Linked DNA regions of Homo sapiens. The protein of the gene in region 2 purifies or fractionates together with the protein of the main gene of each other region. This does not show direct contact. Each region holds a gene or a part of one and is shown on either strand. Other genes may lie near its edges. The genes, in order: DLAT and SLC36A1.

Region 1 (3,822 bases), on a different chromosome or scaffold from region 2:
AATAACATAATTAGAAAGCAATAATTAATACCCTACCTGGAATTCATGTGGCTGTAGTTTACCCTCTCTTGCTTTGGTTGCTAAAGAAACAACATCATTAGCAATGGTTTCCACTCCTTTTATATGTGCATTAAACACAATAGGTGTGATGAGTCCTGCAGGAGTACTGACCGCAACACTGACATCAACAACATGATTTCTGTTTAAAAAGAAAAATAAATATAATAAAAAACTGTTTATTAAGAGCCTGTGTGCCAGGTTAAGCAAGAATATTTATATTTACTTCAAAAATTTTTTGAACCAATGTGTGTTATTGTTCAGCCAAAGACAAAAATTAAGATGTCTATCCTAATTTTTACATTTTGCTGTGCCCTCTCCTTGACTTGTAGTTATTAAAAATCAAAGAGAGGTCCGGGAACGGTGGCTCATGCCTGTAATCCCAACACTTTGGGAGGCTGAGGTGGGCGGATCACTTGAAGTCAGTAGTTTGAGACCAGCCTGGCCAACATGGCGAAACTCTGTCTCTACCAAAAATACAAAAGTTAGCTGGGCATGGTGGTGCACAGCTGTAGTGCCAGCTACTCAGGAGGCTGAGGCAGGAGAACCACTTGAACCTGGGAGGTGGAGGTTGCAGTGAGCTGAGATCACACCACTGCACTCCAGCCTGGGCAGCAGAGCGAGACTCCATCCCCCAACGCTGCCCCTGCCCCTGACCCCACCGCCTGCCAAGAAAAAAAAAAAAAAAAAAGAATGAGAAATGTGTCAGCAGCAGTAGGTTGGTTTCGCACATATCGTCTAACATCCCCTGCCGTCTGCCTTGACCGACACGTGAATGCAGCTGAAAGAAAACCCCACCAATCAGAACTCCTTGGATTTTGAGTGGACGTACATTGGCTGCAGTTGAGTCTCTGCAAGTAGTTTGAGCAGATGAAAGGAAGAGTGAAGGGAAAGAACTGCATTGTAGCAAGAAATAGGAGTGCTCAGGATACATGGGTGGTGGTACCTCAGAAGAACGTAAAAGTAAGGGGTCCCAATCTTTTTTTTTTTTTTACACAATATCAGATCTTCTGTTATCAAGGAGTCCCAATCTTTTCTACAGAATGTGTCCCTATGCATCTGGATCTTATCTCAGAATACCTTTTTAACACTGAAAATACTCAAATTACTAGAAAAAAGAGAGAAACTATACTGAAATTCAGTTATCAAACGGTTCAAAAGCAAAATTATGACAAATGTGCTTCTGTATTCACTCAATAATAAGATCTTGTTGCAGGTCTAATAATGGCTATCATTTTGAAGCAGGGATGAACAAAATAACATTTTGAGATATATACAACTACAATGTGATATGAAAATAACTGATTTTTATTGGTCACCAGACACAAGTACTGTTAACATTTGATCTGTTCTCTACATTTATAAAAGGAAGAAATGCTAAATGTTAGTAGAAAAAAAAAAAGGTGATTCCCCCCCCCCACCCCCCCCTTCCCCCACCCCAACTGAAGTTCACAAGCTCATGGATTCATGGATTTTATCCGTGGTCTCCTTGGGGTCTGCCTAAGGGCCCCTGCTAGTGTTCTGCAATCGAGAAAAAGTTAAGACTTCAAACAAAGGCACAGCTCTGCCTCCAAAGAACTCCAGCTCTTTCTAGGCACAAGCTCCAAAAAGATCAGTGGGTACCAAATCCCCCAATTTGCCTAAGTTGGCTAGAGCAGGATTTTGTCACTTGCAAACAAACACAGGAACCTGCTCTAATAAAAATACCGTGTATGACTCATTAATTACCACAGAACTGTAGCCAAGGTATCACACAGCAAATACTGCTTTCTTGAATAAATTATTACAATATTGCTTGTTCAATCATCTTCCCTTTGAGACAGTAAGGACAGTATTCCCTATATTGTTCACCACTGAATCCAGTAAACAGTACATGTTAAATAAATGTTGAATGGGTGTATGAACAAGTAAATGAATGGTGTTTGGTTAGAATTAACAGACAACCTCAATTTCTTCATCTAAGTATAGAAATATCTTGATATTCCAGGTTCAGTTCCAGACCACCAAAATAATATTGCAATAAAGCGAGTCACATGAATTTTCTGATCTCCTAGTACATACAAAAGTTATGCTTAACACTACACTGTTGTCTACTAAGAGTGCAATAGCATCGTGACTAACAAAAAACCAATGTATACACCTTAATTTAAAAATACTTTATTGCTAAAATATGCTAAAAATCACCTGAACTTTTAGTGAATTGTAATTTTTTGCTGGTAGATCTTGCCTTGATGTTGATGGCTGCCGACTGATGAGGGATATCAATTATCTTAGCTGTATCTTCTGAATAATTTGCTGCTTCACCCTGTACTTTTATGTTATTATGGCCTCCTTTCCTTCAACCTCATGAGCCAACCTCTGCTAGCCTCAAACTTCTGTTACGCGGCTTCCTCACCTCTATCAGCCTTCAAAGAATTGAAGAGAGTTAGGGCCTTGCTCTGAATTAAGCTTTGGCTTAAGGGAATGCTGTACCTGGTTTAATCTTTTATCTAGACCACTCAAAACTTTCTCCGTATCAGCAACAAGGCTGTTTCACTTTCTTATCATTCGTGTGTTCACCAGGATAGTACTTTTCATTTCTTTCAAGAGCTTTTTCTTTGTATTCACAAGTTGGCTGTTTGGCACAAGAGGCCTAGCTTTCAACCGATCTTGGCTTTTGACATGCCTTACTCATTGAGCTTAATCATTTCTAGCTTTTGATTTAAAGTAAGAGACGTGAAAGTCTTCCTTTCACTGAAACACTCAGAGGCCATTGTAGAGTTACTAATTGGCCTGATTTCAGTTTTATTGTGTCTCATGGAATAGGGAGGCCCAAGGAGAGGGAGAGAGACAGAGGAACAGCTGGTTGATAATTCTATCAATTCTATCAACCAGTCAGAACACATGCAAAATTTATCAATGAAGTTTGCCATCTTATATGGGCATGGTTCATGGGGCATTGAAACAATTACAATGGTAACATCAAAGATCCTTGATCACAGGTCACCATAACAGATACAATAATAAAGTTTGAAATACTCTAGGAATTGCCAAAATGTGACACAGAGACAGGAAGTGAGCACATGCTGTTGGAAAAATGGTGCCATCAACTTGCTTGACAGAGGGTTGCCACAAGCCTTCAATTTATAAAAAAGCACAATAAATCAAAGTGCAATAAAGCGAGATACTCTCACAAGTAGATGGTTCTCACTTCACACCCACACGGTAACAAATATTGATGAGGACATAGAGAAACTGGAACACTTATCCACTATTGGTGGGAAGGTAAAATGGTGCAACCACTTTGAAAAATAATGTAGAAGTTTCTCTAAAAATTAAACATAATTTTACCCTATGACTCAGGTATTCCACTCCTAGGAATCTACTGAAGAGAAATAAAAATATATGTCCACACAAATAACTGTATGTAAATACTCATAGTAGCATCATTCATAATAGCAAAAAACTGGAAAACATGTTAACTGGTGAATGATAAAGAGGTATATTGATACGATTAAACACTATACAGCAATAAAAAAGAATAAACTACAGATACATGCTACAACATGGATGAGTCTCAAAAACATTTCGTTAAGTGAAAGAAAGTAGATGCAAAAGACCACATATTTTATGACTCCATTTCTATAAAAGGTCTAGAAAATACAAATCTATAGACTCAAGCACTATAACAAATTGCCCAGGGGCTGAAGGTGAAAATAAGAATTTACTATAAATGAGCATGAGTGATCTTTTGGGGGTGATGAAAATTTCTAAAATTAGATTGTG
Region 2 (3,822 bases):
AAAAAGGAAGAAGAGTTGTGGATGGGAGATGTTGAGACGAGGGCCAGGGTGAGCACCTTTCAGTTTCCTGGTCCTCCTCTGAGCTGCTTTCAGCTACCATTTCTCAGTACTCAGGTTGGCAGCAAGAAAGGAGTCCCAGGGTCAGGGTATAAGAGTTACTGGTGGCCTCCAGAGAGTATAGGATCAGCCTGTGGTCACAGCAGAGAGAAAGAGAACGGCATGTGTGGCTCTGGGATTTGGTGGGAGTTTCAGCAGAATTGGATGATCCAGAGGGGATTTCTGTTTTCTTTTTTTTTGTTGTTTGTTTGTTTTTTTTTTTGAGATGGAGTTTCGCTCTTGTCGCCCAGGCTGGAGTGCAATGGCACGATCTCGGCTCACCACAACCTCCGCCTCCCGGTTTCAAGCGATTCTCCTGCCTCAGCCTCCCGAGTAGCTGGGATTACAGGCATGCACCACCACGCCCGGCTAATTTTGTATTTTTAGTAGAGACGGGGTTTCTCCATGTTACTCAGGCTGGTCTTGAACTCCGGACCTCAGGTGATCCGCCCGCCTTGGCCTCCCAAAGTGCTGGGGTTGCAGGCGTGAGCCACCACACCCAGCCCAGAGAGGATTTCTTGAGTGAAATGTGTTCTCTATTGAAGGCAGAGGAAAAAGAGTATACGATGAGAAATACCCAGATTTCCATCCCCCCAAGAGCTTGTACATATATATATATACGTGTGTATATGTGTATACGTGTATATATATACATACACGTGTATATACGTATATATATATATATATATATGGGATATTTATATATATATATATACACACACGATTGAACTATTGCACAAGGTCCAAGACATTATCTCAGAAAGGAGTAGATAATCCTGACCTAAGGAATAGGGAATGCGGAATTCCAGGAAGCACTTCTCTTTCATTTTCCCCCACTCCTCCCAAGCAGTGCCTCACTTCTGCCTTGTCTAGCTGTACTCCGGAAAATTAAGAAATTTATGAGTGTAGCACCACGTATACCAATGGGAAGGATGGGAGTCAGAAGTCAAGTGAACTCAGCCCGCCTCTGTGTACTTTGCACTTTTCCATTTCCCTTGGTACCAGGCACTTTCATACTTAATCCATAGTGGAGCTGTCACAGTGAGCAACTCTGACAATGACAGCTTCTACCCCAGAGGCCACCCCAAATATGGAGCTAAAGGCTCCAGCTGCAGGAGGTCTTAATGCTGGCCCTGTCCCCCCAGCTGCCATGTCCACGCAGAGACTTCGGAATGAAGACTACCACGACTACAGCTCCACGGACGTGAGCCCTGAGGAGAGCCCGTCGGAAGGCCTCAACAACCTCTCCTCCCCGGGCTCCTACCAGCGCTTTGGTCAAAGCAATAGCACAACGTGAGTAGCTGTTACCTTCTCCTCTCCTGGGTGGGATTCGTGTTCCTAAGCCTCCCTTGGACTTATTTTTCCCCCCAATTTCATCAGTCCTCCACTTTACAGATGAAGGTCAGCAGTGAAGAGATTGGGCGAGTGACTGCGCTGAGATTTGCCTTCCTGGGCTGCCACTCTCTAGGCAGTTTCTTACTCTTTTTTCCTTTCAGCTGTGTTGGCCCCCCAAGGCTGGTGCCAAGTGAGAGCTTGGACTTAAAAAAAGCTTCTACAGAGGACATTCTTTTAATTTAAAAGTGTGTCATCTGTGCTAGAACCCCAAATAATTTCCAAGCATAATCGGAAGCTTCCTTTGCAAAGTCTCCCCCCGAATTCTGCCCCATCACCAAATCAGTATTCATTTGACTGAAGAAGTGGGAAGAGAGAAGAATTAACTTCTGCACTTAAAAAATTCAGGGTTGGTAGGAAAGGAAAGATAGACTTTGCATTCTCCAAAGAGGGCTTAATCTCTTGTCTCCAGAAACTGGGACCCCAGACTCATTTGGGCTGAGTTTGGCCCGCTTCAGGTCTCACTTTCCCCAAATGTAAAGAAAAATTGAGGACTCCACCACAAAGCTATGCTGGCTGTGTGGGGCTCACCACTTGAATTAGAAAATTCAGAGGAAGTTTTGCTACTCCATTGAGTTAGTTTCCCAGCTACTCCTGATTTCAGCAGACCTCTGACTTTTCTCTGTGTCCCAGCATCTCAGCTTTTGCAGTCCTGTTTATTCCTCAAGCTTAGCTATTACCTTTTCTGTGTTTTCTTGTGGACTGAGTGTGACTTACTGAGAGATCCTTCATGTCCTAGACTTATGCCATTCCTGATGACTGCCCAAGCGGACCATGGAAGCTTCTGGGCTCATCACTGGAGAAGCTCCCTCTGCCTGCACTGTCTGCTGGTACAGGGCATTTTCTCTTGCGAACTGGGGTGGAACTAGAAGAATGTCTGTCCACATTCCTGGCCCGTCACCACCACTAGCTGATTTCTATGCCTCAGGCTGGAAGTACTCAACCAGTCCTCTAAGATTCTGTTTCTGTAGCTTATTTCTCAGGGGTATGCTTTTGTAGATTCCCCATTAGCCTGCAGTGGGAGTTAGCTGGTGGTAGATTGCTTAGAGCACAGCTGGCAGCAGTGTGGATCACCCTGCCCCTCTTTCCTCCAACCTTATCAGCATTGGCAGCCCCCATGCAGAAGCATCTCCACACACAGCCAATGGCATGTGATGGCTTCCCTTCAGAGGTCATGCTTGTTATCGTAAGATACTTCTAAGCTTCCTTCTCTGTAGTTTCCTTTGCAGTTTTTGCTCCTTTTTGATCTCAGATATCAACTTGTCTAAGCAATATTTAGCAGATGAGGTCTGGATTTTTATGTTTATAGAGACATCTCTGAAGCTCAAAACCTACCAACTAGCAACTTTAGGATAGTAGCTCATAGGTTTTGGACAAAATTATGTCCTTGTTTCTTGGAAATCGAACAAATCAGAAGATACCTTCCTCAGGCTTGTATTGTGACATTTTCCAGGGTATACTTTGTTCCGAGTTTCCCTTCCTGCCTTGATGTTGTGATACAGTGTAGGTGACCAGGGAAGCCTATCTGTAGTTGATGGCAGGTATTACAGTCCCATCACAGGTGGTACAAGATAAAGTAATTTGCTGGGGCTTAGAGGACTGGTTGAGTACTTCCAGCCTGGGGCATAGGATCCACGCAAGGATTTATATAGAAAACATGCCAGGTATGATTAAGGTAGAGGTTGATTTGGAGGACCTTCTTAACCTAAATTAATATTTTAATATGTCGGAAGTGTTAGAGACAAGTTTTTGAGCTGGGTTCCTTTTATATTTCTGGTTTGCCCCACCCTTTTATCTAGTTTGCCAAGGAACAAAATACATGGAAGTACTTCTACACCTACTGCACATATGCATGCACACACCTGGCTCTTCTAGAAGTCAAGGGCTCAGCAAAAACCCCTAGTTAGGGGGTGCAAATAGGAACCCCAAACACTTCCATGAGTTTCATGGGTTACTTCCTTTTATTTTTTTGAGACAGGGTCTTGCTCTGTTGTCCAGGCTGGAGTGCACTGGCACAATCATGGCTCACTGCAACCTCCATCTCCTGGGCTCAAGTGATCCTCCCACCTTAGTTTCCTAAGTAGCTGAGACTACAGGCATGCTCCTGGCTACTTTTTGTATTTTTTTTTTTTTTTTTGTAGAGATAGGGTTTTGCTATGTTGCCCACTTAGTCTTAAACACCTGGGCTCAAGTGATCCGCCTGCCTCGGCCTCCCAAAGTGCTTGGATTATAGGCATGAGCACCATGCCTGACCTGTGAATTATTTCTTAGTGTGTTCAGTGAGGTTATTTACTAACACTTGATGTTACCAAGCTATTGACTGCTTCGAAGACA

What was found.
Region 1: the proteins of SLC36A1 (region 2) and DLAT purify together in Homo sapiens (affinity purification with mass spectrometry; one large-scale study listed by BioGRID and IntAct). This does not show direct contact.

Annotation. Positions count from the first base shown.
Region 1 is NC_000011.10:112,056,280-112,060,101, reverse strand, and holds part of DLAT (dihydrolipoyllysine-residue acetyltransferase component of pyruvate dehydrogenase complex, mitochondrial isoform 2 precursor), read right to left. Parts: intron 200-3,822; coding exon 37-199; intron 1-36.
Region 2 is NC_000005.10:151,457,547-151,461,368, forward strand, and holds part of SLC36A1 (proton-coupled amino acid transporter 1), read left to right. Parts: exon of another isoform or gene 1-1,153; coding exon of another isoform or gene 1,154-1,246; coding exon 1,247-1,389; intron 1,390-3,822. UniProt on the Homo sapiens protein: Electrogenic proton/amino acid symporter with selectivity for small apolar L-amino acids, their D-enantiomers and selected amino acid derivatives such as 4-aminobutanoate/GABA.